Homo sapiens: one gene and its partners. The main gene of each other region encodes a partner of the protein of the gene in region 3 in a complex. Each region holds a gene or a part of one and is shown on either strand. Other genes may lie near its edges. The genes, in order: ERCC3, GTF2A1 and GTF2E2.

Region 1 (10,600 bases), on a different chromosome or scaffold from region 3:
CAGTAGTGATTTAGAAAATGATATTTTCTTTCCTCCATCTTCCTTTTGCTGCTCAGCTTCATCCGTTTTTTAATGGCCCTCTAAAAACTGGGTTAGGAGCACTGAAAAGCCCTTCCCAAAATGGTGGTGATGTGTTTTATTTGAAGCCCGGAATATTGATCCTTAGTCAATATGTAATAGAAGCCCTACTTCTCCAAGTATCATGGGCAAACCTTTTTTTTTTAAGCTGCTCTATTGATTTAATTTATATACCATAAAATCACCCCTTGTAAATATATAATCCAATGAGTTTTAGTAAATTTGTGGACCAGTGCAACCATGACCATGATCCAAGTTTTCTTTTCTTTTTTTTTTTGAGATGGCATCTTGCTTTGTTGCCCAGGCTGGAGTGCAGTCGTGTGATCTTGGCCCACTGCAACCTCCGCCTCTAGGGTTCAACTGATTCCCCTGCCTCAGCCTCCCAAGTAGCTGGGACTACAGGTGTGTACTACCACACCCGGCTAATTTTTTTTTATTTGAGACAGTTTCGCTCTTGTTGCCCAGGCTGGAGTGCAGTGGTGCAATCTCAGCTCACTGGAAGCTCTGCCTCCCGGGTTCAAGTGATTCTCCTGCCTCAGCCTCCCGAGTAGCTAGGATTACAGGTGTGCGCCACCATGCCCAGCTAATTTTATATTTTTAGTAGAGACAGGGTTTCTCCGTGTTGGTCAGGCTGGTCTCAAACTCCTGACTTCAGGTGATCCGCCCACCTCAGCCTCACCCTGGGATTACAGGCGTAAAGTACCACACCTGGCCAAATTTTTGTATTTTTAGTAGAGAAAGGGTTTCGCCATGTTAGCCAGGCTGGTCTTGAAGTCCAGACTTTAAGTGATCTGCCTGCTTGGGCCTCCCAAAGTACTGGGATTATAGACGTGAGCCACTGCATTCGGCCACCATGATCCAGTTTTAGATTTCCTTTGTACTCATTTGCAGTCAATCTTTGTTTCTCTATCTAGCTTCAGATGACTACTGAACTGCTGTCACTATAGATTTGCTTTTTATGGAAAATTTATATAAACACAATCATACAATATATATTATGTCTGGCTTCTTTCACTTCCCATAATGATTCATCTGTGCCTTAGCATTTATCAGTAGTTTGTTCCTTTTATTGCTGTATAGTTTTTTGGGCGAATCTTTTTTGATAAAAACAGATTAAGGGATTAAGATTAACAAATTAGGAGTGGGCATGGTGGCTGACACCTGTAGTCTCCTAGCACTTTGGGAGGCCAGGGCAGGAGGATTGCTTGAGCCCAGGAGCTTAAGATTAGCCTGGGTAACATAGTGAGACATGTCTCTACAAAAAAAAATTTTTTTAATTAGCCAAGTGTGGTGGTGTGCACCTGTGGTCTCAGCTGCTGAGGAGGCTGAGGTGGGAGGATCACTTGAACCTGGGAGGTTGAGGCTGCAGTGAACCATGATTGTGCAACTGTACTCCAGCATGGGTGACAGAGTGTGAGACTCTGTCTCAAAAAAAAAAAATAAAGATGAACAGATTAGGGTAAATTAAGGAGTCTAATAGAGGTTACTATGAACAAAATGAAATCTGAGGCATTTTCACAGGTAGTGTTCAAAATGTCAAAATGGCCCCAGCATCTGGTTCTTTCTGTGCATGAGAGCTCTTCAGCCCTGATGGGTTTCTGGAGATACCTAGAGATGTTCACAGCTGGCCAGGGAGGGATTGGAGGTCTTTCTGATGGAAGCCCAGGGTGTGGGCCCTGCTGTGGGAAAGTACTTGGCATAGTGAGACAGCACAAGGTGGCCATGCGGCCAGAGGAGAGCATAGGAACAGTAGTCAAGGCTGAGGAAGATTAGCGGTATTGGGGCAGGTCTTGTAGGACCTTGTAGGCCACGACAAGAACTTTGGCTTGTACTCTTAGTGTGAAGCCATCTGAGGGATTTGAGCAGAGCATGACATGAGTTGACTTTACACTGTAAAAATACTGCCCTGGCTGCTGTGCTGGAAATAGACTGAAGGAAGCAAGACAGAAGCGGTGAGGTGAGTTTGTGGAATCCCAGTAAGGATGAAGGCGTGATCCGACTCTGGATATGTTGTGAAGCTTTAATTGACAGGTCAGGTGTGGAATCAGAGAGAAATCAAGAATGACACTAAGGTTTTTGGCTTGAACAAAGGGAGGATACAGTGGGCATTAATTGAGATGGGGAACACTCTCAAAGGAGCTGGTCTGGAAGGTGACTATCAGGAGTTGGGCTTTAGATGTGTGAATTTGAGTTTCCTGTTAGGCATTCAGGCCATGGCAAAAAGGTTAAGAAATAGGCCAAAGAAATTGATAGACATTTCACCAAAAAAGGATATACATATGTCAAAAAAGCACTTGAAAAAGGGTTCAACCTCATTAGTCATCAGGGAACTGCAGATTTAAACCCACCACAGGATGCTCCCATATGCCAGTTAGAAGGGCCAAAATAAAAAATACTGATGTGCGGGTGCTGATGAGGTCACAGCAACTGAACTGTCACACATTCCTGGAGGGATGGATTGCAAAGTGTATGGTCACTGTGGAAAACAGTTTGTCCATTTATTATGAAATTACCACATGACCCATCAGTCCCATTCCTGTGTATCCTGGATACATGAAAAGAGGTTTACACAAAATCCTGTACACGAATGTTTATGGCAGCTCTGTTCATAATATCCAAAACCCAGGTGCTCATCAGTGGGTGTCTGGATAAACAAGCTGTGGTACATCCATACACTGGAACACTACTCAGTAGTGAAAAAGAACAAACTTGCTGCATGTTGCAACCTGGATGAATCTCAAAAGCATGGTGCTGAGTGAAAGAAGTCAGCCTCAAAAGCTTCCATAGTATGTGATTTCATTTATACAACGACAGTATAGTGCTGGCCAGCAGATCAGTGGTTGCCAGAAGTGGGGGGTCAGAGATGGATGACTCTAAAGGAGAGCACAGGGGAATTTTGGGGGATGCTGTCTTTATCTGTACCCTGATTGTGGTGCTGGTTACAAAAATGTAAATATGTTAAAATGCATAGAAGTGCCCCCCCCACCCCCCGCCCCAAGTCAGTTTTACTGTGAGAATTTAAAAACTCAAAAGAAAAAAGGTGGAAGGGTGGGTATTGGGTCTGCTAGGATTGAAAATTGATGGTACAGAGAATCACTACCCACAAAGGAGTCTGGAATTGTTCTGTAGCAGTTTGGTTGGAAGCTGTGTTCAGGGCTTGAGGCATTCTGTCTGACTATATGTTTGGTACACGTTCATGTTTTTCTTTAACCCAAGCCCCAGGTCCCAGGTTCCAGGGGACAACAGCACAGATTTGGGATTGGTTATCTGATGAACAAGTACAAAAAGGTGCATCTCACACTCACATATGTCTGTGAGTTTGTCTGTCTCTCGTCTAGTTCACTGGATGAGTTAGTCTTTGGTTGAGTTGCGGAGTGAAACCAACAAACTCTAAGGGATTTTTGAGTACAGGCCCCATAAGCCCAGTGGCCTGGCCATGCTCATTGTCCCAGAGAGCAAATGTTAAATAAGGGAATGCTAGGAAGTCACAGTAAGTCTCCTGACTGTCTTAACGTCTGCTGTGTTGGGTTAGGTGGAGTGATCAATCTTTGAGATTTATCTCAAAGGATAAAGATTGCTGTGCTGTTTTACAGATTTTTCAAAAGGAGCTCTGTTATGCCTTTTTATTAATGATTCATATTATGGTACTTGTGTATATTAAGTGCTTCCTGTGTGCTAGGTACTGTGCCAGTTTCATTATTTCTACAGGTATTTATTGAGAACCTACTAAGTTTAGGCACTGTACTTGGCACTGGAGACAAAGTGGAAGGGACAGCCAAGTAACCACACAAATAAATGCCAAATGACAACCATGACATAATGTTGAGTGATACAAGCCACACACAAAAGTGCATACTATGATTTCATTCATGCAAAGTTCAGAAAGGAGGCAGACCCCTCTCAGAAGTCAGAGGAGTGTTTCCCTCAAGGAAGAGTGCTAGTTATTGACAGAAGGGGTCAGGGGAGAGACCTCTGGGTGCCTGGTTCTCTATATCCTGATCTAGGTGGTTCCACAGCTGCATGTCTGTAAAAATATATTGAGTAGTATGCTGTGAGTTATTCACCTGTGACAGCTGTCAGGGCTGTAGGAGAGTGTAATAGAGGGGTGTGATGGGGTCACGGGTGTCCAGGCAGAGTCCTACCTGCCTTATCCTTGTCTTGGGTCAGTATGTCCCCCAGTGTTGCCTCTCTGGGGCCCACACTGGGTTGGTGTAGCCATTGCCTTGACTACCATTTCCCTCTAACATGGGGAGCTTGGTCTGAGGTTCTTGGCTACTGTATTTTGGAGCCAGCACAGTCTTTCCTTAGACATAACCCTGAGCTGATTTTGTTTTCTGTGTTGTGTGTGTGTGTGTGTGTTTGTGTGTGTGTGTTTGCATGTGGTGTTGTGTGCAAACCATGTAGATGTAAAAACTAAACATTTACTTAGAGTTAGGCAACCCTATGTTATTTCACTGTGAACGTCTTTGTGTTTTGGTGCATTCAGGCCTCTTTTTCCTTAGATTTTTGTGTCTATTTATTTCTGAAATATCATTAGCCCTACTTTCAATTATATTGTAAGATAAGCATGACTCAAACATTTTAACCTTGCTTCAGAGTATTAGAATTTTTAAAAGGTGAGCCCGTGGAAATCCATAAATTAGGTTTTTTAAAAATGAATAACTCATACCCTTTATGTGTTTATTTTATTTGATAAACCAGAGAGAATTATAATGTTCAAAAGAAAGGAAGAAAAAGAGGTTGCTGGTTGACCAAAGTGATTGAATTGGTAAAGTTTGGAGAGGGGAGTTTCCTAAGGCGGGCCGGAGGGCTTGGGCGAACAGTTCCTGGAGTTTCATCACTCCCGTGGGCTTGGCTTTCTTCTCGGTTTCTGGGAAAATGATGGGAAGCTGAGAAGAGCTGGCTTCTTTCATTTCTTCCTCTCCCTAGATTGTCAACTTTCTTTTCAGTAACCTGGGTACAAGTGTTAGGGGAAAATTCTTTGCGTAATTTAGAGCTTAATGGTATTAATAGTAAGTATTGCAGGTTGTATTTCAAATTGCCATCTGTACTTCTACTGATAACTGTTGTGAGGGGAATGCTGGGATTCATTAACTTGGAGATTCCTTAAGCTCATTTCACCCTCTTGTTCTCCTTTTCATTTTCTTTTGGACAGGTCTAAAAGTGATGGTGAAGCATTTGCCTAGTCATTCTTGTCTAGAGCCAGCTTCTGTGGTCCTGAAACCCAAGGGTTAGTTCAGGTGGTGTCATAAGCCAGTGTTAAGTTGCACAGCTATGAGCATTTGAAAAAGTGACAGTGTAGGCTGGGTGCAGTGGGTCACGTCTGTAATCCCAGCACTTTGGGAGGCGAAGGCAGGGGGATTGCTTGAGGCCAGGAGTTCAAGACCAGCCTGGGCAATATAATGAGACCCCATCTCTACAAAAAATATTTTAAAATAAATAAATAAAAAATAAGAAAGAAAAGTGACAGTGTGAATGCTCCCATTGTTTCCTCAGCCAAGATGTTCCGAAGGGTGCTCACCATCGTGCAGGCCCACTGTAAGCTGGGTTTGACTGCGACCCTCGTCCGCGAAGATGACAAAATTGTGGATTTAAATTTTCTGATTGGGCCTAAGCTCTACGAAGCCAACTGGATGGAGCTGCAGAATAATGGCTACATCGCCAAAGTCCAGTGTGCTGAGGTAGCTGGGCCTGGGCTGGGGGCGTCTGGGAAAGGGCCTCCTCCTATGGGCAGGGGAGTGATCAGATCGATTCCTCATGGGCAGACACAGGTCAGGACTTAGGCTCACCTGCTACCACTTCATACAGGATCCTCAGTCACCCTGTGGTTGGGTGGTACTAGACCCACTTGCTGCATATCTTCTGTCTTGTCACATATCTCACATACCCCTGAATTTGTGATGATTCTTTTTCCTAGCCATGGGGTTTACCAGTCATGGATTTCTGTGGGTGAGGATTAGCATTCAGGGCACAGGGATGAATGAAGGCCCCTGATACCACAGTGCTGCCTGGGAGCCTGGCAGCAAAGGGCTTTGCTCTGATAGCCCCAAGCGCCTAACTGATATGCTCCCAGCCCTGCTGGGAAGTGTGTGAAGAGGTGGCGGTACTCAGTAGCAGTGCTGACTCGTGTGTGGAAGTGTGGCTTAAATGGAAGAATTGCTGACACTACCAATTGAGAATCTGGTTTCGCACACTTGCAGCTGGTGTGAAAATAACTCCCTGGATGTGATTGCATTTAAAAATCTTTTAAGTGGTTAACATGTGAAAACGTCCAGTTCAATAGGAGGTATTAGGTTGGGTTTAGTTTTGTGCATGCATTTATTTTCAGTTGTACTGATTTCTAATTCACATAGCATTTTTTTTTTTTTAAAACAGGGTCTCACTCTGTCACCCAGGCTGGAGTGCAGTGGCGTGATCTTGGCTCACTGCAACCTCCGCCTCCTGGGCAAGTGATTCTCCTGCCTTAGCCTCCTGCGTAGCTGGAATTACAGACATGCACTACCACACCCAGCTAATTTTTGTATTTTTAGTAGAGACTGGGTTTCACTGTGTTGGCCAGGCTGGTCTTGAACTCCTGGCCTCAAGTGATCTGCCTGCCTCAGCCTCCCAAACTGCTGGCATTACAGGCATGAGCCACTGCACCTGACTGGTTTTGTTTTAAAGCTAATTCTGCTAGAGAAAGGTCTTCAAAAGTTTTAAATTGTGTGGTGTTTAAACTTGTAAAATGACCCCTGGTTCTTACTGTATTACAGGTCTGGTGCCCTATGTCTCCTGAATTTTACCGGGAATATGTGGCAATCAAAACCAAGAAACGAATCTTGCTGTACACCATGAACCCCAACAAATTTAGAGCTTGCCAGTTTCTGATCAAGTTTCATGAAAGGAGGAATGACAAGATTATTGTCTTTGCTGACAATGTGTTTGCCCTAAAGGAATATGCCATTCGACTGAACAAGTAAGAATTGAAAACTTGGAGCTTCCTCCAGGCCAGTTTCTCTTCCCCATTGAGAGTGCAGAAGGTGGCTGTTGTTTTGTTTTTTTGTTTTTCTCTCAGGAACTTCTTGGGCTCCAAAGATCTTGTTCTGTGGCCCTGGTCTCAGAAACCAGGGAAGACCTGAAGTAGGTGGTTGGAGTCAGAGGTTAGAGCATAGAGAAAAGGGGGGCTAGTCACCTTGAGCCCAAAGAACAGGGAGCAGAGACTTGGACTGAGCTGGGTGGGGCCCCATGGAAGATCTGGGCTCCAAAGGTGGGTGGGAGTTGGCATTTGGAGCTTTGGGCTGTGTGAGCTCTGTGGGTGGAGAGGAGGCCAGACTGGATGGCCTAGGGGCTGGGAAGGCAAGATGGGCTGGGCTGGCATCCCAAGTACGGACTGGCATCTGGAAGGAGCTTAGAAATGCCCACGCAGTATCCTCATCAACCCATGGCTCCACCCAAATATTTGTGCTTAAAACCTGGCTTTTGTAAAGCTCTGCCAAGTAAGGAGGAAGAGGTCTGCGCTTGCTCCTACAGTGACACAGGACTTCAGGTGCTGTAAGTGTTGCAGAAGGCCAGGCCCTCTATGGAGACAGGTCAAGCTATGTGCTATGGGTACTATACATAGGTTTTACTTAATCCTCACTTCAGCCATATAAAATGTTGTTCCCATTTTATAGAAGGGAAGACAAACTCATAGAAAGATTAAATTTCTTAAGTTTCTAAAATTATACCTTTATTTAATTTAGAAAGACTTTTTAATCCAAGTCAACATTTAGATTATTGTGAAAAACAGCAATTCCCTGCTTCTATTTTCCCACCCACAATTCTATTCCTTGAAGACAGCCGCTTTTGACTCTTTTTTGTTGTTTACCTTCATATTTCTTTCTTTCTTCCTTTTTTCTTTTTTTTTTTTTGGAGTTAGGGTGTCACTGTGTCACCCAGTCTGTAGTGCAGTGGTGTAATCACGGCTCACGGCAGCCTTGACCCCCTGGGCTCAATCAATCCTTCCACCTCAGCCTCCCGAGTAGCTGGGTCTACAGGCACGCACCACCACACCCAGCTAATTTTTGTTTTTTGTAGAGATGGGGTTTTGCTATGTTGCCCAGGCTGGTCTCAAACTCCTGAGCTCAAGCAGTTCCTCCTGCCTTGGCCTCCCAAAGTGCTGGGATTAGAGTCATGAGCCACCACACCTGGCCAGCCTTCATCTTTCTAAGCAATAGCTTATGTAGTAATTTCTTGATGATCAGTTATAGAAATTGCCTATTAACTTCCTACTGTAGGAGTTGAGGGTTTAGCTTTCTTACATACACCACTCTCCCCACTCCTGTTTTCTCTCCTACCATTCTCCCAATATGGGAATAGCACAAGTTGGGGGTTACTTTAATATTCAGTTACATTATTTTGACTGTGTAAGTATGTTCAGGCAGAGCTGTAGAGTACTATTACATTTTCCTTTTTTTTTTGAGACGGAGTCTTGCTCTGTTGCCAGGCTGGAGTGCAGTGGCGCTATCTCAGCTCACTGCAACCTCTGCCTTGTGGGTTCAAGTGATTCTCCTGCCTCAGCCTCCTGAGTAGCTGGGACTACAGGCACCCGCCACCACAGCCTGGATAATTTTTGTATTTTTGGTAGAGATAGGGTTTCACCATATTGGCCAGGATGGTCTCGATCTCTTGACCTCGTGATCTGCCTGCCTCGGCCTTCCAAAGTGCTGGGATTACAGGTGTGAGCCACCATGCCCGGCCTTACATTTTCTTTTTTGTAAATGTTTTTTTGCCTTGGAGTTAATAATTGCCTTGTCATTGTTTTTGCTTGGTTTTCTGTGCATTGAATAATTATTCCCCTCCAAAGTCTTCACATAACCATAAACTCAGTAGGGTCAGGTAATTTCTCAGTTCTGTTTTTCTGTTTCCCCAGTGGGATCCCCACCAGCACTCCATTCGCTTACTCTGTTCTGGCCTGCTTGCTGTCTAGGACTAGAGACACCACCAGCTGTTACCATGGGGTTTCCCTTGGACACTACCCCATGACTTCCCTGGGCCTCTTTGTTGTGTTTCCCACCCTGAAATCTCCACCCTCTTGGTTACTCATTTTGATGGAGCACATGTTCCAGTAGGTTCCTGAGAGAAGGGATGTAGGAGGAGAAGCTTTGGAGACTTCACATGTTTACAGATGTCTTTACTCGACTTTATACTTGATCAGTAGTTTGGCCAGGTCCTAGAACTAACATTGGAGCTTCCAGTGCAGCAGTTTGGCAGTCTGATGCCCTTTGCTTCCTCTCAGTGTGTTGTCTGCTGTGGTGGCTGTGCGTTTTCCTTCCCTTGAAAACTGGTAGGATCTTCTCTCTTTTTGGAAATTTGAAAGTGATATTCTTAATGTTTTTCTTTCATCGTGATGGGCACTCAGTATATCCTTTCCATCTGGAAACTCGTGTCCTTCAGTTCTGAGAATTTCTGTTTTTTTGTTGTTAATCACTTTCTCTATGTAGTCCCTTCTTGGAATTTTGATTCATCAGATGTTAGATCCTCTGAACAGCTTCTCCAGTTTGCTTATCTTTTTTCTACTTTTTTATCTCTTTGTCTTCTAACCCTTGTATTGAGACTTGTTAATTTCTGAGAGTTCTTTCCTGGTAACTGTTCTTGTTTTGTTTGTGAATAGAGTGTCTTCTCGGAGGCTTTGAAAACTTTTGAAGCTTCCGTCTGTTTCCTGCCATGTCTCTTTTCTTCATTTTTTTGTCTTAATTGTTTTTACCTGTCTTTTGAGTCTTTCTGAGTTTTGGTAATCCTTGACTGTATTTTATTGGTTTAAAGTCACTGAAAACCTGGCAGGCCTTTCTGTGTGGCTTAGTGGGTTTGCCAGCTTGTGGACCTCACCAGAGTGGCTGGGCAGGGCCTGGCTATTTCTTCAGGAGGTTGCCAAATGCCAGTATCTCTAGGACTTTTCTCTTGGGCTGGACGGTTTCTTCAGTGAGGAATTTTTCAGTCCCCTGGGCACCACCGTGTGTTAGGGGAAGAGGAGGGCTTGTGGAATCTTTGCATTCAGTCTTGCCTTTTCCCTCATCTCTGCCGGGCATCCCTGGAGAATAAGCCTCCAGTGCCCCACCAGTGGAGGTGGCCTGCCTGCTGCCGGCCGGACCCAACTGCTCCTCACACTCACACACTGCCAGTCCTCCTGTGCACCTCCCCACCTTCTCAGGCAACTGGTGACTAGTTCCTGAGCCCTCCTGCGTGCTGCAGAGGACACAGAGGCGGCGGGTTTTGTATCGGTCTTCCCTCCTGCCGGCTCCAGCTTCTGCTTTCTCTAGTCTGTTAGCTCAGGTACTGTGCCTGCATCTGTCTGCTTTTCAGCTTCTGAAATGTTACCCACTTCTCTCATCTGCTGTTATTTCTTCTCCTGTTTTCTTGGTGGGTTTGTGTTCTGTCACATTAGTGCCAATTTGAGCAGGGCAATGAGACAGTTCCTATATTTACTTTGCCTTATTTAAGAACTATTCTCTCCCCATCCTTCCTCCCACAGCAATGCTCCTCCAGTCTTCTGGAGCCTCACTCC
Region 2 (10,600 bases), on a different chromosome or scaffold from region 3:
GGCCGATTGGCCCCCAGAGAGAGATGCTATGCAAGGGATGAAGAATCTTGAAGGGACTCTGCCAATTCTACCAATCAGTCACTTCACCAAGACTGTAGGGAGTTTGAATATGGGTTGTCATGGTACACATAGTAGGTATTCAAGTATTTGCGGAATACATGAATGACACAAAATATAATGGGCTTAAATGTAACAAACTCCTTTATGTTCGAAGATAATCAGCCAACCACAATTGTGATGCTGGTATTACAAGTATTGCTATTTTGGTAATTCACTGAAGATTTTTGAATAGGATATTGAATGTCTAATGGGAAGAAGGGGCTAATTGGGAAGGCAAAAGACTCCTACAAGGGAAAGGTGATATCTTAAGACACACTTTGCATGAATAATGCTTTTCTTTCTTGGTTGCAAACAACAGAAACAGACTTATTTTAAGCAGAAAAGGGATTGGAAGGGTACAGTAGTTTGCAGCCAAAGTCTGCTTAGGAGGTTGCCAATAGCACTCTTGCCCCAGTCAATATCACACCACCAGACCTGAACATATATAGGACCTCTGACTGATCCTGCAACTTTGTTTCATGCTCTTAAGACTCAAAGTCCTGAGTGTAAGCATCAGTCTGACCACCTCAGATTTTGGTCCCTGTTTCTGGATCCAGTGACAGGTGACTTCTTACTTGCTATTCTACTTCCATAAAGAGGTATATATTACCCTCCATTCTTCTTGGCATGAAGCAAAATAGGAAGGGTATTCTGACACTGAGAAGCCAAAACAACAAATGTCCCTTGTACATCCCTGCTGAAAGTGAACAGCTCTAAAGAGCTTTACTCTCAGCCGGGCGCAGTGGCTCAAGCCTGTAATCCTAGCACTTTGGGAGGCCAACGCGGGTGGATCATGAGGTCAGGAGATCGAGACCATCCTAACATGATGAAACCCCGTCTCTACTAAAAATACAAAAACAAAATTAGGAAGGCGTGGTGGCGGGAACCTGTAGTCCCAGTTAACTTGGGAGGCTGAGCCGGAAGAATGGTGTGAACCCGGGAGGCGGAGCTTGCAGTGAGCTGAGATGGTGCCGCTGCACTCCAGCCTGGGCAACAGAGCGAGACTCTTGTCTCTAAAAACAAAAAAAGCTTTACTCTCTTCATCTCTTGCAACTAACCTGGGTGAACTTTAGTTTTCCTGGCCCTATTTGCCCCACTCAGCAATGCCACCCTAACCTATGCATCATTAGCATGGAGGTCCTGTCAACACAGAGAAGTCAATGTACTCTTTTTCAAAGTGGAGGAGACATTGTGAGAATCAGAGTGATGTATCCGTATCTTCAATGTTTGACAACTCTGTTTTGCTCCTTAAATGAACTGGACAGACTCCATTCATATTTGGAAAAGTCCATTTTTAAAATGATAGTTCTATCATAGTTTTAGCTTTGAGAAAATTCAACTTATTTAGACATATAATTTAGGATTTTTTTGGCGGGGGGAGAGAGGGAGCTTAAAGGCCCTCCCACTGTTTGATTATCCCTCTCCCATACCCAGCACTCAATTTTCTTCCCTCTGACACTTTCTGCTGTAGCCAGATGCATTGTTTCACCAACTTACCCTCCCAGGATTGTTTGGTTATAATGAACTCTTTCACTGGTTCTCAATTTGTTTTTGCTATTTTTGACCATTAATTTTTTCCGGTTCAAGAATAATTTTAAACTATGCAAATAAGTATGAAATTAAGCATATAATTGTGACATCTGAGTGCTGACTGTGTACCAGGCACCAGCCTAAGAGCTTTACATGCATCACACCTCATTTCATCCTCAAAATCTTGTCATTTTACAGCTGGAGAAACAAAAGCCAAAAGCTTAAGCTTAATCAAAGTAGGGGCTTGAATTAAACTGCAAAATACAAGATTTGCTGGCAATAAATAAGATATCTTTATTATGATTATGTTAATAGTTAAAATTTGCATGTTTTCTAGATAGTCTGTTAACAGGATAAAAAAATACAAAAAGGCGAGCTTCTTAATGATTCAGCTGAATTAACTATAAAATTAAAATACCTGCTAATTATTATCTTCTAAAATAACACAAAATATATTCAATACGCAATACAAACCTCAGTAATCCAATTCTCCTAATATGCAATTATTTATAACCTCTGAACTAAGAGGAAGTGGTTTGACTAAACAGAGAAATAACAATGTTTTTATCCTAAGTAATCTATACTTTGGAGTAGAAATACTTATTTAATACAATATGTTAATTATTAATATTTCACAAGGAGTAATCTTTATTTTGAAAAACAATGTTAATTATACCAATTTTTAGTTATAATTTGTTAGTGTGAATTCGCCCAACCTAAATTCCTGTGTGCCTGGAAAATACAACTTTTTAAAAGCTAGTATTAATCATTTGTAACACAGTTTACTAATTCAAATTGACATCTCAATCTACTTATCTTTAAGGTACAGAATTTAGCATCTTTTTGTTGTTGTTAAATGGAATTCTCATTAACAATGTAAAGCATTTTCCTTTCTAAATTGTATTTTATTCAATTATCTATAACAATGCCATATACTAGTAAGCAAAGCAAGCAACATTTTTTTTTAAATAACATCTTTAATTAAAGTTTTTGCAAAGTAGAATATTAAACTTAAAATAGGTCTTAGTACATCAAAATACTAAGTTCTCTAATTGTATTCCAAGATGGTCTTTAAAACATAATATCCCATATATCACAGAAGAGCAACCTTGATCTGCAATGAATTTTACAAACATAATAAATATATTTACGCCATTACACATAACAGTATGTACAACAGCAGTTGACAATAGTAGCTCAGAACAGCAAAAAGGATTAGCCCCGCCCCCCAAGTCATAGTCCTGATGTAGACTGGACTGATTAAGGAACCTTGACTGAAAGAGTAGTTACTAACTCAATGTGTAGTAACTTCCCTTAAAAGAGAAAAGTTTTTTTGTTCCTCAAAATAAACAAAAATGTTAGTTTGGTGTGTTCTTCATTAAACCATAGACAATGACAAAAGACAAGAGTAAGGCAGGCTTAAAAAGGGAACAATATAAACTTCGTAATAATTTTCATAGCATAATAGAGGACTAAAATGCAAAGCTATTTAACAAACTCATGAGGAAACAAGTAAAGCAACTATTTTTTAACTAAAGAATTCAAAATCTGCTATAGCTGATTCTGACAGGTAGGTGAGAGAAAGACATGAAATAAAATGAAAATGTACAAAGATGGATCAACAAACTATTACATTGCACAAAAGCTTAAAAAAAAGAAAGTTCAAGATGAAATAATCGGAAAAACAGGAATTTTCTCAAGTAGAAGAAAATGCTAAGTCATAAAGAGAACTCCCAAGAGGAAATTATGTCTGTTTTCCTATACAAGGGGTATTTACCCTCTGATAAGAATGGTGACATTATTGCTATGAGAATCAAAAATAGTATACTCTTAGAGGGAGACAACTCTTTTCATTCCTCCATAAAAGCCAGGAAAAAAAAAATCTGTGACTTTCATTATAGCAAAAGAAAATATTCATATAAAAGCTATATGTTATTTCCTAAAACCAGAATCTATTATGCTCATTAAGCACACATTTTAATTACTACACACTGCTCAAGTCTTGATGTAATCTTAGAACAAGAAAGTGGCTTTGCTTTTAAAAGAGGCAACAGTGTAAATGTGACATTATGATGGCATTTTAATTAACAGAAAGAAATGTGAACATTTAAAAAATAGAAAAGCCCAACATAAAGATCCCCCTCACATAACAGACATTTTACTCTAGAAATTAATTGCACATTAAAGAGTTGTTTTAGCCATATGTGGCACTCCACAGAAATTAAACATGCTCTCAGGCATTCAAATGGTCTGATTACCCAAATGGCCACCAAGCAAGAGTTTGTATACTGAAAGGCACACATTTCCATGTTTTATCTTGTAATTTTGTGTAAATTTTCCTTAGCACTGTTGATTAATGTTAATTTAAGTAAAAGGTGCCATCGCCATCTGTGCAAATCTAAACAAATCCTCTCCAGAAACCATTACTTATTTTCATAATACCAAGTCCGAACTATTTTCTGCCTTTAGATAAACATGCTACTTTCATTTTCAAATTCTGAAAGTGGAAATCCCTTGCCTTTTCAAAGGAATGACATTTTAATGGAACCTAATACGAAATGATTTGTTAAATACAATGTTAAAAGCATGATTAAGAATTCAAGTACAATAAAAGATAAGCAAGTGACATTCTTACAGCAAAAGCTACTATAATAAAACTAAAACATGCTATTTGATTAAAAAGGACACGATGCAAATAATATATAAGAGCACAATTTGGTATGCAATGTAGCTTGGACCAGCTTTCAGAATTTTCACAGGTAAAAGAAAAGCATTTGCCAAGTATACCATAATTCATATGCAATACGCAGGTGCAAATACAAATGGTTATTTCCTGCTTCAAAAATAACAAAATAACCACTCTGAAAGCAGTGGTTGTTAATATTTGAAAAATAAAGTTATAAAAACAGGCCAGTATACAACACTACTATGAATATGAATGTTTGTCTACATAGAGGGCCCAAGACAAGCTGAATATCATACAGTAATCCAAGTTTCAGTAGCATAAAAACTACTAGATAGCCAAAGGGTTTCACTTAAGCAACACTGCAGCACTGCTGAATTTTTATAGGTAGTTCAGGTCACTGACTTCCTTACTGAGTAAATACAAACCTACTAGCAACTATATTGAAGAACAGTTGAACAACAGCACTTCTGTGATGTTACTCCCTCCCATTTCCTCTTCTCTCAGTCTTAATAATATATATTTTAAAACCTCTGTGTGCTTTGAGAGTCACAGAATAAACAAACTTCCCCTCAAAAAACTAAATTAATATAGTCAAAATAAAAGCTGTATTACCAGTTATGGCATCTAAATAAAATCTAACTACTAGCATGCTAGACACCACCATTAACACCAAAGTTTAGAACATAAGTTAAAGAGATCAAGGTGGTAAGCTGGGTGGGAAGTAGAAAAAAAAAATTTTTGCCTTTTTTTAAAGTTAAAAGATTTGTGTTAAAAAAGAAACACTATATAATAGCTCACAGTTTTCTTCTCTGTAATGTACTTTAAAAAGTGTTCATGTGTTACTTCTGAAAACACAAAGGCAAAAGGAAGACAAAAACTGAAGATTAAAAAAATATATCAATATACAAGTAACCTAAACACATGTAAATTTTGTCAAGATAAACCATGGAAAGTTGAATTCGTTGTAAGAACACAATGGTGAAGACAAGCATTCCTGCAGTTCTCCCAGGCAGTGAATTCACACTGAACACAGCAGTGCCATATTGTTCTTCAGAGCCCCTTACAGAATACAGACCTATGCATTCTTAATATACATATTACATTTCTATTATTTTTAATATACAAGTCAAATTTCTATGCTTTCTTCCCAATGTGCAAACTGGAGCCAACGTCTTTATTTTCAATGGCCTGGAAGGGCCACCAAATGAAAGAGAGGTAACTTAGTGGCCCACCCACCTCTTCCCCCCAAATTTTCCCCTCAAATTACAAAGTTGATTTTAAAAACTTGTTGAATTAGAATAGATTTTTAAAATTCTTTACTAGTAAACACAAGAAACTTTTATAATTACTAAACTGTTTAATAAAAATCCAGGTCCTCACCACCTGCCCTATGCTAATCAATGCACAGACTGTTAACTGAATGTTTAGCTTAAAAACTAAACACATTTATAAGCACACACTTCAGCCCAACAGGAAAAGTCTACATATATTCATGTGTATACAATTTCAGCTAGATGGTATGCTTGCAAAATAAAACTATATTCCTGAGGAGCTAGTTTGGGGTTTCTTTTTAAGGTGTGGCACTAAAAGAAACAAATTAAGTTTTTCTGTAAGGAAATTAAAGTTGTGGTTTCAATTCCACTGAACTCAGACAAGACCCAAGTCTTTAATTACATTTAATAAGTATGAAAACCTAATTAAAATAAATATTCATTCCTGGGTCAAATTTTATCTCCAAACTATGATCACTGATAACTTTAAATCTTAAATAGATGTTTCATAAAGCTGGAAAGGAAGAGGTATATATCACTGAGGGAGAATAGCAAGTAAAAATATTTAAGACCTATTATGAGAGTTTTAAATTGTTTTCTTATACAAGTGAATTAAAATTCAACACAATTCTTACCCTTTTGTAAAAAGCTCACACGCAACTTTTACCAAATATAACCACATACAATAAGCAGTTTCAGTTCAATCTATCAAAAGGGAAGTTTCTTCAGTTCATTCCAACAAGTATCTTCTGATTGAACCCAAGTTGGAGGAAGGAATATAGACAAAGCTTTACATGCTAATTACCGGTGGCAGGTACCTGTATTTAAAATCAACAATTATGGTTTTCCTACACAAAACCCCAACCCTCCCACCCAAAAACCCTAGGTGCTACAGTTCCATGGCTTGCCAGTAAGTAGTGTCTATGTTGTCAAGGTCTATCTTTGTTCCAGTAGCTTTGCTTCTACTGCACTTTTCTGACATGCAGAAACGAAGTTTTGGTTGGCATATGCCCCAAGTTTCAAACTGTCCGCTTTACATTTTTTTTAAGTTTCTTTTATTTATAAAAGAAAAAAAGCAACTCTTCACCATTCTGCATCTCCAATGGCTTTGGAAAATATATAATCTCTTCCATTAAGATTCATAATGCCATCCTTGAGATGAAATTTCCATTTGTTTTTACTTCTGTGTATCTAAACAAAAACAACATTTTAAAAATTGAGAGATACAATCAGAAAACAGAGAAAACAAGTAACAAAAAACCCATACACACACACACGTACACACACACCCCCCCACAAAACAGTATTTACAGTATTGTATTTGCAAATTGGTTTGTTTTTGTAGAAGAAGGGTCTCCTATGTTGTGCAGGCTGGGCTCGAGCTCCTGGCCTCACGTGATCCTTCTATCTCAGCCTCCCAAAGTGTTGGGATTACAAGCGTGAGTCACAGCACCTGGCCTAAAAATTGGTTTCTTAATAAAGTTTAATTTCACCAAAAAGAACAACAACAACAAAAAAACCACACACAAAACTCACTAGGTGGGTCTAAAAACAAATTTATCTGTAATTAGTACTATTTTATAGCTTTTAGTACTTGTGTTCATTAAAGTAGTTAAAAAATATTTCTTTACAAAATGTCTTATCTCTCTACCAGGTTTGCATATATATTTTCAAGGTCTACCTCAAAAAGACTATCCTCCACAAAGCTTTCCCAAATCTTACCAGCTAAAACTATTCTTTTCCACTGTTAAATTCCCAATGGTATTTTCATTGACATTTCTTACATTATTTGTAAGTAATACAATTATGGACTCATTTCTTCTACCAAAATAAAACTCCTTATAGAGTTCTCAAGACCTAACTACCATGGAACCTTATACATAGCAGTATTTTAAAAATACATCTAAAGGATGCTAATCATCCAGTCACTTACACCAGATTTCAAAAACTATGTACATCCACAGTTAAACAAAAAGAGCTGAAGGGCAGGCTCTGGGCACTCCCATCTTTGCCTTCACTTATAGTCCGTAGTTGTTTGTAATTCCATGGATTTGGTGGGGGAGAGGAGTTGTAAAACTTAATGAACTGAAGTGACCTTTCTTCCTTTTCCCAGTAAGTCACACTAATTATTTAATGTTCAAGTTCCACATCTTCTGCAAAGAAGGCCCCCTGGTTCTCCCTATTCTATGATCTAAAGGTACCTAAAAAAAAAAAAAAATCAACTAGTTCAGGCTTTCATTTTCAGAAGAAGAAATGACAGATTGGATAGGGTTCAATGGTTTGACCAAGTGTATACTGCTACTAAGTGACAATCATGATTTTCAAGTCTTGGTCCAGTACGCTTTTACTAAATCAGTCTGTTTCATATAATAATGCAGAAATGCTCAACAGGTATAGATATTTTCTTTTTCTTTTTTTTCTTTGAGACAGAGTCTCACTCTGTTATCCAGGCTGGAGTGCAATGGCACGATCTTGGCTCACTGCAACCTCCCCCTCCCAGGTTCAAGTGATTCTCCTGCCTCAGCCTCCTGAGTAGCTGGGATTACAGGCACTCACCATCACGCCCAGCTAATTTTTGTATTTTTGTAGAGATGGGTTTCACCAGGCTGGCCAGGCTGGTCTTGAACTCTTGACCTCAGGTGATCCCCCACCTCGGCCTCCCAAAGTGCTGGGATTACAGGCGTGAGCCACTGCACCCGGCCAGGTACAGATATTTTCTGAGATCTCATTCCTAAAATTCCATGGCCTAACCTCCCAGTGCAAACATTCTTCATGACATATTCCTGGCAAATGGTTGTGCAGTGTCTGCTTAAATACGATTAGAAACAGTGAGCAAAGAATTTCAAATTAAGTTATTCCTTTTTGGAACAGCTCTCTTGTAAAATCTTTCAGAGTTTACCCTTACGGAAATCTGCTTCTCCAACTTCCATTTATTGATCCTAGCTCTGCTTTTTGAGACTTAAAAAAAAAAAATCACTCAATCAAACAACCTTCATCTTATTTGGAAACTACTCTCATGTTCTTCTTCTGGATTCAAACTTTGCTTACTTATTAAAGCAAAACAAAGCACAATAAAGGTAAAACAGCAGGTAGGGTAAAGACTGTTGGATTAAGAACTAATTATATCTCTGGTCTAAATACACTACATAAATGCTAAATGTAGCATCTTAAGATTGATGACTTGAATGTCTAACGGACATACCAGACTTGGCATGTCCAACCAGCTCCACATGCAGCTTTTCCTCATCTGAACTGATGGTATCACCATCCTTCTTTCAGAATCCTCATCAAAAAATCTCAAGAGTCATTCTTGATTCCTTTTTCTTTTCTACCACAAATCTCAGAGTCAGGAAATGCTGTTAACATTCTTCCTTCAAAACAAATCCAAAATCCAACTACTTCTCACCAACTTTAATACCATCACCATAGGCCGAGTCATCATTATCTCCCATGTGAATTATTATAATATCCCCCTAAATAGTCTCGTTTCAGCAACCTCTGCTTCCTCCTCATATTATGCTCTCTACAAAGAAAGCAAAGTAATCCTTTCAAAATTTAAATCAGTTCATACCATTTGTCTCACTGAAACCTTCCAATAACTTTCTGATTCACTTAAGAGTAAGAGCCATGTCCTTACAAAATCCTTACTATCTGCCTTCCCTTACCTCTCTACCTACTACTGTACTCTCCTCTTCCCTCACTCCAGTCTAGCCACACAGGCCTCCTTGCTGTTCCTCACATACAACAGACTCTGCCACCAGATGACAGGGCTAACTCTTTCCAAGTCTTTGCTAAAATGTCATTTTCTCCAAAGACCTACTATGACTATCCTATTTAAAACTGAAACCAAACCTGTCCTCTTTCCCTGCTCTTTATTTTTCCATACCGACTATCAGCTTCTAACATATAAATATTTTATTATGTTTTAAATAAGTAAATAAATCCTAATTTATTATGTTTTAGCATCTATCTCCCCTGATTGGAGTAAGCTTCCCAATGGCAGGGACTGTTCTGTTTTGATCATTAGTGTATCTCAAGCTCCAAGAATAGTGCCAAGGGACATCATAAACAGTATCTGTTGCACATGAAAAGAGCTGTCTCCCCTTATCTTTGAATTCCTATAAAGTATTATTTATTCTACAAACGTGTATACAAATGTATTTCCAGCATGAACCAAGTGACTGCAACCAGAAAGACCGTGGGCTTAGCTAGACAAAAACAAGAAAGTGATGAGTAGCCAGGAAATAAGAGATTCTATAGACAAGTAAAGAAACTGCCTGCATTCTGTCATAGGACAGGACAATTTGCAAAAAATAAATGTACCAAAGTTTCATGGGCCAACTAATCCACACAGTCAACACTGAAGTCATGTTGGGTAATAAATGGTAAATATTTTTATATTAATAGAAGTACAAAGTCACAACTTAAAAAGCAATCTATTTACCGGCCCTAAGCCCTTCATGAAGGAATATTCTTAAAGCCAGGAGAAAGCCCTCTTAAATTTCCTAATTAAAAATGTGTTAAAGCAAGTTTACCTACATCTGATGCTATTTTCGCTAAATGCTGTATCAGCCCTTATCCACCCACACGTAAGCAAGAACTCTACCATATTATTAGCATTTAACTAAGATTCTGATTTGATTGGCAATACAAGCTTTATTAGTCGTTCTATGATCTCTTCTAAAATTGACTCATTGTTGACATTCTAAAGTTAAGGCTTCAAAACTACATTCCTGAAATTCAAGTTGGCTCAAACAATATCCAACCTCATTTTGCGCAGTCAAAGAAAACTGCTGTTCTTTACTATTGGCTAAAGACATCAAGCCACCACCCTCCTCCAATCTTCAGAGCAATTCATTTGATTCTCAAAATTAGACCTCTGCAAATTTTAAAATTATTTATCATTCAGCACACCATTTAGAGCTATCTCCCACTTACTAATTTAAAACAGTAAAGTAATGTCTCTGGGAGCAAAACAAACCAATTTTAACATTTAAAATATTATGAGTACAGT
Region 3 (10,600 bases):
GGAGCACGTGATGGTGAAAGACAGACATTGCGAAGCTTTCTGCTCTAGATGCCTTTGAACGTTCCCGAACCTCACAGGTGGCCTTTGTTTTAAAGGCCTTTACCAGCGTTCCAGGTCTGGTGTAAGGAGCACTTGAGTTAGGAGTCAGGAGGTTTGGTTCCTGGCCCTGGCTCTTCCATCTGTGCGACCTTAACCAGACAGCTTCACTTCAGATTTCACGTATTAAAATAGGAATAACACTAATACCTGTTTGCTCCTAGAGTTGCGAGGGTCAAATACTGTAAGCATTTAGTTTGTTGTAAACTGTACGGCTTTATTTACTTTTTTTTTTTTTTTTTTCTGAGACGGAGTCTCGCACTGTCGCCCGGGCTGGAGTGCAGTGGCGCGATCTTGGCTTACTGCAAGCTCCACGTCCCTGGTTCAAGCGATTCTCCTGCCTCAGCCTCCCAAGTAGTTGGGATTACAGGCACCCGCAACGACACCCTGCACATTTTTTAAATTTTTAATGGAGACGGAGTTTCACCATGTTGGCCAGACTCGTCTAGAACTCCTGACCTCGTGATCCGCCCTCCTCGGCCTCCCAAAGTGCTGGGATTACAGGCGTGAGCCGCTGCGCCCGGCCTATTTAAATCTTTTAGAGTAATTTTTTTAAAGTCCAGATTGAGGTCCTGCCTTTGCAACGTGAAATAAGACACAAATGTTTCCTGTTCTAGAAATTTACTTTTTGCTCCCACCTTCTCACTTGACAATTCTCCTTTCTTCTTCTTGGCCCCACGCTTTCCCTCCTCCCAAGGCTGTCTCCTACTTTCCTCAGCCCGGTAAATCATTCCCTTCTTTCAGATCCAACTCAAAATAGTAATACTGAAATAACACGTTTTTATGACTTTACTGTTTAAAAAATAACATACACATTTTCTCATTCTTACAATTGGGCTGGATGTGGACAGCTTTCATAGCGTCCTCATTTCACTTATGAAATTGAATGTAGAGGCCTTGTGGGTTGCCTAGCCAGGTGGCTTTAGGAATTGAAACTGAGGCCGGGTGCGGTGACTCACGCCTGTAATCTAAGCACTTTGGGAGGCTGAGGTGGGCGGATCACTTGAGGTCAGGAGTTCAAGATCAGCTTGGCCAACATGGTGAATGAACCCCGTCTCTACTAAAAATACAGACATTGGCGGGGCGTGGTGCTGCGCGCCTGTAGTCCCAGCTACTCGGGAGGCTGAGCCAGGAGAATCGCTTGAGCCCAGGAGGCGGAGGTTGCATTGAGCCGAGATTGCACCACTGCACTCTGCCAGCCTGGGCGGCAGAGCGAGACTCTGTCTCAAAAAAAAAGAAAAAAAAATTGAAACTGAGAGAAGGCAGGTTTTTGATTCACCGTCCAGTGATTGTTCACGCCTTAATTGAAATTCAGTCTGATTATTTCTTATCAATGCTTATATTTAAAATTTTTAGCTCAATGCTTCCATTTTCTCAAATCTAAGCAGCATGTAGACAAGGATTTATCTTCCGTAACCTTTCAAAGCTTAGAGCACAGTGCCTCACAAACAAGATATTTAATAAAGGCTTGTGAAACCAGTAATAATGGGACCAGAGCAATTTAAAGATGATGTTCCATGTGTTGTTCATTTAACAAATATTTATTGAGCTATCTGTGCTTAAAAGCTTTCAAAGTATGAGTCTTTTTCCTCCCAGCTGACACTAGTCTTAACAGTGTCAAATTCATTTATATAGTCAGCTTGAGGTCTTCATAGACCCTCTGTAGGGTTCTAGCAGAGTTCAGAAGAGAGGTGTGTTTAGAATTCTTGTTGGTTGACCTGTAGCTTCCCTGGTTGTAGTGAAATTGCTTTGAGTTGTAATTTTAGAACTAGACAAACAACAACCACAACATAGAAGTTGCCTCAAACCACCTCCCTCCAAATTGGAAATTTTCTGTAGACTTTTTTTTTTTTTTTGAGACAGAGTTTTGCTGTATCCCCCAGGCTGGAGGGCAGTGGCGGGATCTCAGCTTACTGCAACCTCTGCTGGACTCAAACAGTTCTCGTGTCTCAGCGTTCTGAGTAGCCCGGACTACACGTATGTGTCACTATGACTGGCTAATTTCGTAGAGATAGGGTTTCACTATGTTGCCCAGGCTGGTCTCTCAGCCTCCCAAAGTGCTGGGATTACAGACATGAGCCACTGTGCCCGGCTCTCTGTAGACATTTCTAACAAATAGTATAATAATTCAGCCTCTTCATCACTTAATAATTGAGAGTTCACCAGTTGTAAAAATATGCCATTTTATGTATAAGCAGTTCTGATGGTTCTCTTTTTTTGCAGTGAGCCTAAATCCACCTTCTTCTAATTTCTGCCCTGTAGTCCTCATGTTTCTACAGCAGTGTTGTCCAATAGAAATATAATGGGAGTGGGAAGTGTGAGCCACACGTGTAATTAAAAATATTCTAGGCTGGGTGCAGTGGCTCATGTTTGTAATCCTAGTGCTTTGGGAGACTGAGGTAGGAGGATTGCTTGAGGCCAGGAGTTCAAGACCAGCCTGGGCAACATAGCAAGACCTTGTCTCTAAAAAGTTTTTAAAAAAATTAACTGTGTGTGGTGGCGTGTACCTGTAGTACTAGCTAGTCAGGAGGCTGAGGTGGGAGGATTGCTTGAGCCCAGGAGTTCAAGGCTACATTGAGCTATGATCACACCACTGTACTCCAGCCTGGGCAACACAGTGAGACACTGTCTCTTAATTTTTTTTTAATAGCCATATTTTAAAAGAAAAATTGGTGAAATTAATTTTAACATTTTATTTAACCCAGTATATTCAAAATAGTATCACTTCAACATGTAATTAATGTAAAATATCTCGTTAGTAATTAAATAGTTTTTTTCTTTATACTAAATCTTTGAAATCTTGTGGGTTTTTACACTTGAAAGTCCATCTCAATTTTAACTAGCCACATTTCACATGTTTAATAGGCACATGTGGCTAGTGGCTAATATATTGGACAGCACAGTTCTGGAACTTTAGGGAATAATTCTGTTTCTTTTCTTTCTTTCTTTTTTTTTTTTTTTTTTGAACAAGGGTCTTGGTCTGTCACCCAGGCTAGAGTGCAGTGGCATTATCACAGCTCACTGCAGCCTTGACCTTCCAGGCTGAAGTGATCCTCCCACTTCCGCCTCCCGAGTAGCTGGGACTGTAAGCACACATCACCATGCCTGCCTGATTTTTTGTATTTTTGTAGACAGGAGGTATTACCATGTTGTCCAGGCTGGTCTCCAACTCCTGGGCTCAGGCAGTCTGCCCACCTCGGCTTCCCAAAGTGCTTCAGCCACTATGCCTGGCCTCTTTTTTTCCTATAATGGCTAGTACAGTGCTTGGCGTGTAATAAGCGCTAATGAAATATTTCTTGAGTACTTGAATAAGTGAATAAATGCAAGTGCTAGAGAACTAATAATAAAAGGTAATTTTGTTTGGGAAGTAACTTGTTGAGATCTGTGGATTTGGAGTGCAGGTTTGAGTGACTTGAATTTGTATTAAAGACACTTATTTTTTCTTTGTAGCATTATGGATCCAAGCCTGTTGAGAGAAAGGGAGCTGTTCAAAAAACGAGCTCTTTCTACTCCTGTAGTAGAAAAACGTTCAGCATCTTCTGAGTCATCATCATCATCGTCAAAGAAGAAGAAAACAAAGGTAGAACATGGAGGATCGTCAGGCTCTAAACAAAATTCTGGTTAGTAAAATTGTTTAGGACTGTTTGGTTTTTATTCAGATTATTCAGGAGGAAACCGTTTAGTTATGGCTAGTTCATTTTTCAGTTCAGCACTCATGTTGATAGGCACTTTGTTGAATATAAAGGATGGGACAAGAGAATTTAAGCTCTTAGGATGTTAATAGTCTTGTGCTGTAGTTAAAATTTAGGTTATTACCTCTTTAAAAAAACTTTATTTAGGTTTAATTTACATACCATACAGTTCATTCATTTTAAGTTTACAGTTCAAAGATGTTTGGTAAATTTACAGAATTTTGCAGCTGTTATTACAGTCCAATTTTAGAACATTTCCATCACCCCCAGCAGATCTGATGTGCCCATTTGCAGTGACTTTTCCCATCCCTGCCCCGGAAAACCAATAATCTGCTTTCTGGCTCTGTATATTTGCCTTTTCTGGATATTTCCTATAAATGAAATTGTACAGTAAGTGGTCTTTTGTGTGTTGTTTTTTTCACTTGGCATATTTTTGAGTTCCATCCATGTAGTATGCATCAGTACTTCATTCCATTTTTATTGGTAAAGCGTATTCCATAGTATGGATATATGTACCACAGTTTGTTTATCCATTCACCAATAAACGGTTATTTGGATTATTTTCACTTTTTGGCTGTTTTGAATAGTGTTGGTATGAATATTCATGTACAAGTCTTTGTGTAGACATATCTTTTTATCTCTTTTGGATAGAGACCTAGAAGTAGATTTCTGGGTCATATGTCAAATTTATATTTAACTTGTTAAGAAACTGCTAAAATAGCTGTACCATTTTATATTTCCTCCAGCAATGTATCAGGGTTCTAGTTTTTTCTCATCCTTGCTAACGCTTGAAATTCTGTTTTTTTTTTTTTAATCATAGCTATTTCTATAGTTGTGAAGTTCTATCATTGTGGCTTTAATACGCATTTCCTTAATGAGTAATGATGTTGAACATTGTTTCATGTGCTTATTGACCATGTGTATTCCTTGGTGAAATGTCTATTCAATTTTTTTTTGCCCATAAAAAAAACTGAGGTATATTTCCTCTCTCTATTGATTTAATAATTCTTCATATATTCTGGCTACCATTCTTTGATCTGGTATACATTTGCAAATATTTTCTCCAAGCAAGTGCTTGTCATTTTATCTTCTTAATAGTGTCTTTGTATGTACAAAAGTTTTTAATTTTGATGAAGTCCACCTTACCAGTTTTTTTCTTTTATCATTTGTATTCTTGGTGTCATATCTAAGAAATCTTTGCCTGACACAGGTCATGAAAATTTTTTTCTGTGTTTTCCTCTAAGAGTTTTGTAGTTTTAGCTCCTGCATTTAGGTTTGTAGTATATTTGAGTTGATTTTTGTGTATGGATTAGCATAAGAGTCAAAATTTATCTTTTTGCGTGTTCTTATGAAGTTGTCCCAGCATCATTTTTTGAAATGATGATCTTTCCCCTGTTGAATTATATTGCGCCCTTGTTGAATATTAGTAGACCATAAATCAAAGAGTTTATTTCTGGAGTCTTAGTTTGGTTCCATTGACTTCTGTGTTTATCTTTATGCCAGTATCATTTCTCTTGAGTGCTGTAGCATTGTAATTAAGGTTTGAGACTGAGAAATGTAAGTCCATCAACTTAGTTCTTTTTTATTTCAAGAATTGTTTTAGTTTTTCTGCATAAATTTTAGGGTCAATCTATCAACATTTGCAAAAAAGCCTGCTGGGATTTCCATAGGGATTGAATTGAATCTATAAATCAATTTGGGGAAGAACTGCCATCTTAACAATATTAGATCTTCCAGTCAATGAATAGATGGCTTTTTACAAATTTTTTGTAGAGACAGGATCTTGCTCTGTTGCCCAGGCTGGTCTCAAACTCCTGGCCTCAAGCAATCTTCCTACCTCAGCCTCCCAGAGTGTTGGGATTATAGGTGTGAGTCATTACACCCAGCGGTTATTTTATTCTGATTCAATCTCACTTATGAATGAAATTGTTTTCTTTGATTTTTTTTTTTAAATTGTTCATTGCTAGTATATAGAAACAAGAGTTTTTTTTAATACATTGATCTTGTATTCTGTAACCTGACTGAACTTGTTTTTTATTTCTCGTAGTTTTTTGTGTGGTTTCCCTAGGATTTTCTATGTCAAGATTATGTCATCTGTGAATAAGAACAGTTTTCTTTCTTTCTTTCCGGTGTGAACTTTTTAATTTTTATTTATCTTGCCTGTCTGGACTGGCTGTACATTGAATAGTAAAAGTAGCTACCTTTGCCTTGTTCCTGATCTTAGGGGCAAAGCATTCGGTTTTTCACTCTTACGCATGATATTACTGCAGGTTTTTGTACATGCCCTTTCCAGTTGAAGAAGTTCCTTTCTATTTCTAGTTTGTTGAGAGGTGGTTTTTTTTTTTTTGAGACGGAGTCTTGCTCTGTTGCCCAGGCTGGAGTGCAGTGGCGCAATCTCAGCTCAGTGCAAGCTCCACTTCCCGGGTTCATGCTGTTCTCCTGCCTCAGCCTCCCTAGTAGCTGGGACTACAGGCACCCATCGCCATGGCTGGCTAATTTTTTTGTCTTTTTAGTAGAGATGGGGTTACACTGTTAGCCAGGATGGTCTCGATCTCCTGACCTTGTGATCCACCCGCCTTGGCCTCCCAAAGTGCTGGGATTACAGGCGTGAGCCACCGCACCCAGCCTTTTGTTTGTTTTCTTTCGAGACAGCGTCTTACTCTGTTGCCCAGGCTGGAGTACGGGCATGATCATGGCTCACTGCTGGCGTGATCATGGCTCACTGCAGCCTCGAAACTCCCCAGCTCAAGCAAGCCTCAGTCTCCCGGGTAGCTGAGACTACAAGCACATGCCCACCACATTTGGCTAATTAAAACTTTTTTTTTTTTTTTTTGGTAGAGATGGGGTTTTACTTTGTTGCCCAGGTGGGTCTCAAACTCCCCGCTTCAAGGGATCCATCCCCCTTAGCCTCCCAAAGTGCTGGGATTATAGGCATAAGCTACTGCATCTGACTGAGAGTTTTTAGTCATAAATGGGTACTGGATGTTGTCTGATGCTTTTTATGTATCTAATGAGATGAGCATGTTCTCACTCTTTAGTCTATTAATATGATATATTAACATTAATTGATATTTAGATGTTCAAACAACCTTGCATTTATTCCTGAAATAAATCCTACTTGGTTATGGTGTATAATCATTTTTATTTGTTGTGGTACTCAATTTGCTGGTATTTCGGTCAGGATTTTTGCATCTCTATTCCTGAGGGACTTGATGTGTATGTAGTTTCGTTTTTCTCTGGTGCCTCTCAGGGTAATTCTGGCCTCCTTAAACGATTTGTGAAGTGCTCCCTTTTCACCTATTTTCTGAAAGAGTTTGTGAAACTTTGTTATTTTTTAAAATGTTTGATAGAATTCACTGGTGAAGCCATTTGGGCTTCAGCTTTCCTTTGTGGAAAGCTCTTTGTAAGAATTTTTTCTTTTCAGTTTACTCAGATTTTCTATTTCTTTTTGAGTTACTTTTGGTACTTTGTGGCTTTTTAGAAGTTTATTCATTCATCATTTACATTGTCTGAGGTTTTTCAAAGTACTCCCTTATAATCCTTTTGATATCTATAAAGTCAGTAGTGATATCCCCTCTCATTTTTTTTGAGACGGAGTCTTGCTCTGTCTCTCAGGCCCCCCAGAGTAGCCGGGATTACAGGTGTGTGCCACCACGCTCAGCTAATTTTTGTATTTTTAGTAGAGACAGGGTTTTGCCATGTTGGTCAGGCTAGTCTTGAGCTCCTGACCTCAGGTGATCTGCCTGCCTCAGCTTCCCAAAGTGCTGGGATTACAGGCCTGAGCCACCTCACCCAGTGTCCTCTTTCATTTCTGATTTTAGGAATTTGTCTTTTCTCCCTTTTTTCTTGATGAGTCTAGCTAAAGGTTCATCAATTTTGTTGATTTTTTTCAAAGAACCAACCTTTGGTTTCATTGGCTTTTCTGTTTTGGTTTTTGTTTGTTTGTTTGTTTGTTTTTATTTCCACATCAGTATTTATTATTTCCTTCCTTCTGCTTGCTTTGGGTTTAGTTTACTCTTACATTATTATCTTTTAAACAATGTCAGTGGAACTTAATTCACAGCTGAAATTATTTAGCTACTTCAAATTGTAGCAATAATAATTTTTATTGATGTTAATTTTTTACACATCCTACAAGCTGTTTTATAACTGATTTGGAAGCAAAGCTTTTTTAAAAATCAAAGTAGGCCTGTCATTCTTATAATATATATTAGGTTTATATGTCGTTCCAATGAAATGTACATAGAATTAACTCATCATAAACAAAAATGTAAAAACTGTTTTAAACATTAACATAGCCACTCTCAGGCTTAAGCCACTTGAGCCTTTGACCTGCTCAAGAATGTCTTTGCATTTTGTAGTTTAGGCTACAGGTATTGGGTAGCGAATTTCATCTTCCCCACAAACAGGTCCCATTCGACAGCAGGAAGAGCCCTTGTAGGGTTTTACTTCTCTTTGGTTGGCCAGGGTTTTCCCTAACAGTCAGGGTAGGATAAACTGTGTTGTGGTAACAATCCCAAAAATCTCAGTTTCTTAAAACAACAGAAGCTTGTTTCTCCTTCATACTACATGTTTATCATGGATTGGTAGAAGTCTTAGCTAGTTATAGTCACTCAAGGACCCAGGCTGGCAGAGCAGCTGGAAGCTCAAATGTTTGTGAGTTCTGTGCTAGCAGGAAAACTAACTCTGGAAGAGCTTGCACTAGCAGTTAAGTGCTGTGGCCTGAAGGTGACACATGTCACATCCTCTCACAGCTCATTGGCCAGAGTTAGTCACAAGTCACTCATTGGCCAAAGTTATGTTCCCAGCCATAGGGGGCTCTGAAGTGAATGCTTTCCTTAATGAAGAGAGCTGGAAATATTGGGTGTAACAACTAAAGGCTACCATGCCACTCTAGTTCAGGCCACGGTCATTGGATTGCTAGGTTAGCTGTTGACCAGGTCTCCTGGTTTAGCTGCTTTAGTGTTCATTCTTCATACAGCTGTGATTTTTCTCATTAGATCATGTTGCTTTCAGCTCAAGCTGATTGTTACTGTTTTTCAGATAAAGTCCATGTTTTACTGCAGCCTGCGTGCCTGCCTCATCTGGCCTCTAATTATCTCTTAGGTGTGGTATCATACTGTTCTCCTTGTACTCTGTCCTAGTGATACTGACTTGTAGCTCCTCCAACATGCTTTATTCTCTCTTGCCTCTTGGCTTTTATTCGTATTATTTCTTCTTCCTGGAATATTCTTTCTTACCTCCTACCCTCTTTTGGTTCTGTCCTGTTCTTTTAAGTTTCAGCTTAAAAGTCATATTATTCTCATTCTTCAGTGTGAATTCACTGTATAACCTTTGAGTTCCCATATCACTACTCTTTTTGACAGAGCTTCCAATGTGCTCCATTGTAGTGACGTGGTTCCTTGTTTGCCACTCTGCCCTCAGTATCTGGCCTAATTGCTGACATGTAGTAAGCACTCAGTAAATATTTGTTGGATGACTAAATAATTACAGGATAGGGTGGGGGAGAAAGTTGGTAATGTACACTATTAAAAAATCTGATTATTAAAGGACTTGTATACTTACCATCTATTGCCAAGAATCCAACGTTTGTGAAAATGTATATGGTTTTAACAGTGCTCAGTTCCTGGTTTCCAAAGTATTTTATATATCCAAGCTTCACAAATCCTTTTAAAGTTGGTTATATTATTTGTGTTTGTTTCTAATGTGAGAATAAATATAAAAAATACTTTGTGGAAGAGTTATTTCAGACCGGCAGTTAAGATTCTTTTGTTTGTTTGAGACGGAGTTTCACTCTTGTTGTTCAGGCTGGAGTGCGATGGCATGATCTCAGCTCACTGCAACCTCTGCCTCCCAGGTTCAAGTGATTCTGCCTCAGCCTCCCAAGTAGCTGGGATTACAGGGGCCCCATTCCCATGTCTGGCTAATTTTTTTGTATTTTTAGTAGAGATGGGGTTTCACCATGTCAACCAGGCTGGTCTCGAACTCCTGACCTCAGGTGATCCACCTGCCTCGGCCTTGCAAACTGCTAGGATTGCAGGCGTGAGCCACCGCGCCCAGCCGATATTCTTTAAATTGAAAAGAACAGATTTCCTCTCTTCACCACACAGTTATTTATTGCACACAAAAAATTCCATCAGTAATAGAGATTTAAAAAAAGTCTTTTATAATACCTAGTGCTTTTTTTTGTCCCCACAGCCCTCTTAATATACCAGCTATTCTAATTCTCCATATTTGTTTTCAAACCTTACTCATGTGTATATTTATAATATCAATAATTGTATTAAAACTTTTATATGGTGAATTTATTTTTTACTTTTAAATACTTGTCTATCTTGCCAGACTTTTCGGTTGCTTTTTTTTTTTTTTTTTTTTTTTTTTGAGACGGAGTCTTGCTCTGTCACCCAGGCTAGAGTGCATTGGCATCATCTCGGCTCACTGCAACCTCTGCCTCCTGGGTTCAAGCAGTTCTCCTGCCTCAGCCTCCCGAGTAGCTGGGATTATAGGTGCCCACCACCATGCCCGGCTAACTTTTGTATTTTTAGTATAGACGGGGTTTCACCATCTTGGCCAGGCTCGTCTTGAGCTCCTGACCTTGTGATCCATCCGCCTTGGCCTCCCAAAGTGCTGGGATGACAGGCATGAGCCACTGTGCCTGGCCTTCAGTTGCTTTTTAATAATTCATTAAGTTGATGTGCCACATTTAGTTAAAGTCTTAGTTATTTTCAATTTTTTGTTATTTTGAGTAATGCCATTGTAAAAAATCTTTGTACCTTGAGCTTGTACATTTGAACTAAGTGCTTAGGATACAT

What was found.
Region 1: GTF2E2 (region 3) and ERCC3 share a complex: the UniProt entries of both Homo sapiens proteins name them as parts of the TBP-based Pol II pre-initiation complex.
Region 2: GTF2E2 (region 3) and GTF2A1 share a complex: the UniProt entries of both Homo sapiens proteins name them as parts of the TBP-based Pol II pre-initiation complex.

Annotation. Positions count from the first base shown.
Region 1 is NC_000002.12:127,275,606-127,286,205, reverse strand, and holds part of ERCC3 (general transcription and DNA repair factor IIH helicase/translocase subunit XPB), read left to right. Parts: intron 1-5,574; coding exon 5,575-5,759; intron 5,760-6,830; coding exon 6,831-7,033; intron 7,034-10,600. UniProt on the Homo sapiens protein: ATP-dependent 3'-5' DNA helicase/translocase. Binds dsDNA rather than ssDNA, unzipping it in a translocase rather than classical helicase activity. Component of the general transcription and DNA repair factor IIH (TFIIH) core complex.
Region 2 is NC_000014.9:81,173,554-81,184,153, forward strand, and holds the end of GTF2A1 (transcription initiation factor IIA subunit 1), read right to left. Parts: intron 6,778-10,600; coding exon 6,670-6,777; 3' UTR 1,899-6,669; downstream 1-1,898. UniProt on the Homo sapiens protein: TFIIA is a component of the transcription machinery of RNA polymerase II and plays an important role in transcriptional activation. TFIIA in a complex with TBP mediates transcriptional activity.
Region 3 is NC_000008.11:30,646,549-30,657,148, reverse strand, and holds part of GTF2E2 (transcription initiation factor IIE subunit beta), read left to right. Parts: intron 1-1,964; exon of another isoform or gene 1,965-2,073; intron 2,074-3,167; exon of another isoform or gene 3,168-3,446; intron 3,447-3,546; 5' UTR 3,547-3,550; coding exon 3,551-3,716; intron 3,717-10,600. UniProt on the Homo sapiens protein: Recruits TFIIH to the initiation complex and stimulates the RNA polymerase II C-terminal domain kinase and DNA-dependent ATPase activities of TFIIH. Both TFIIH and TFIIE are required for promoter clearance by RNA polymerase.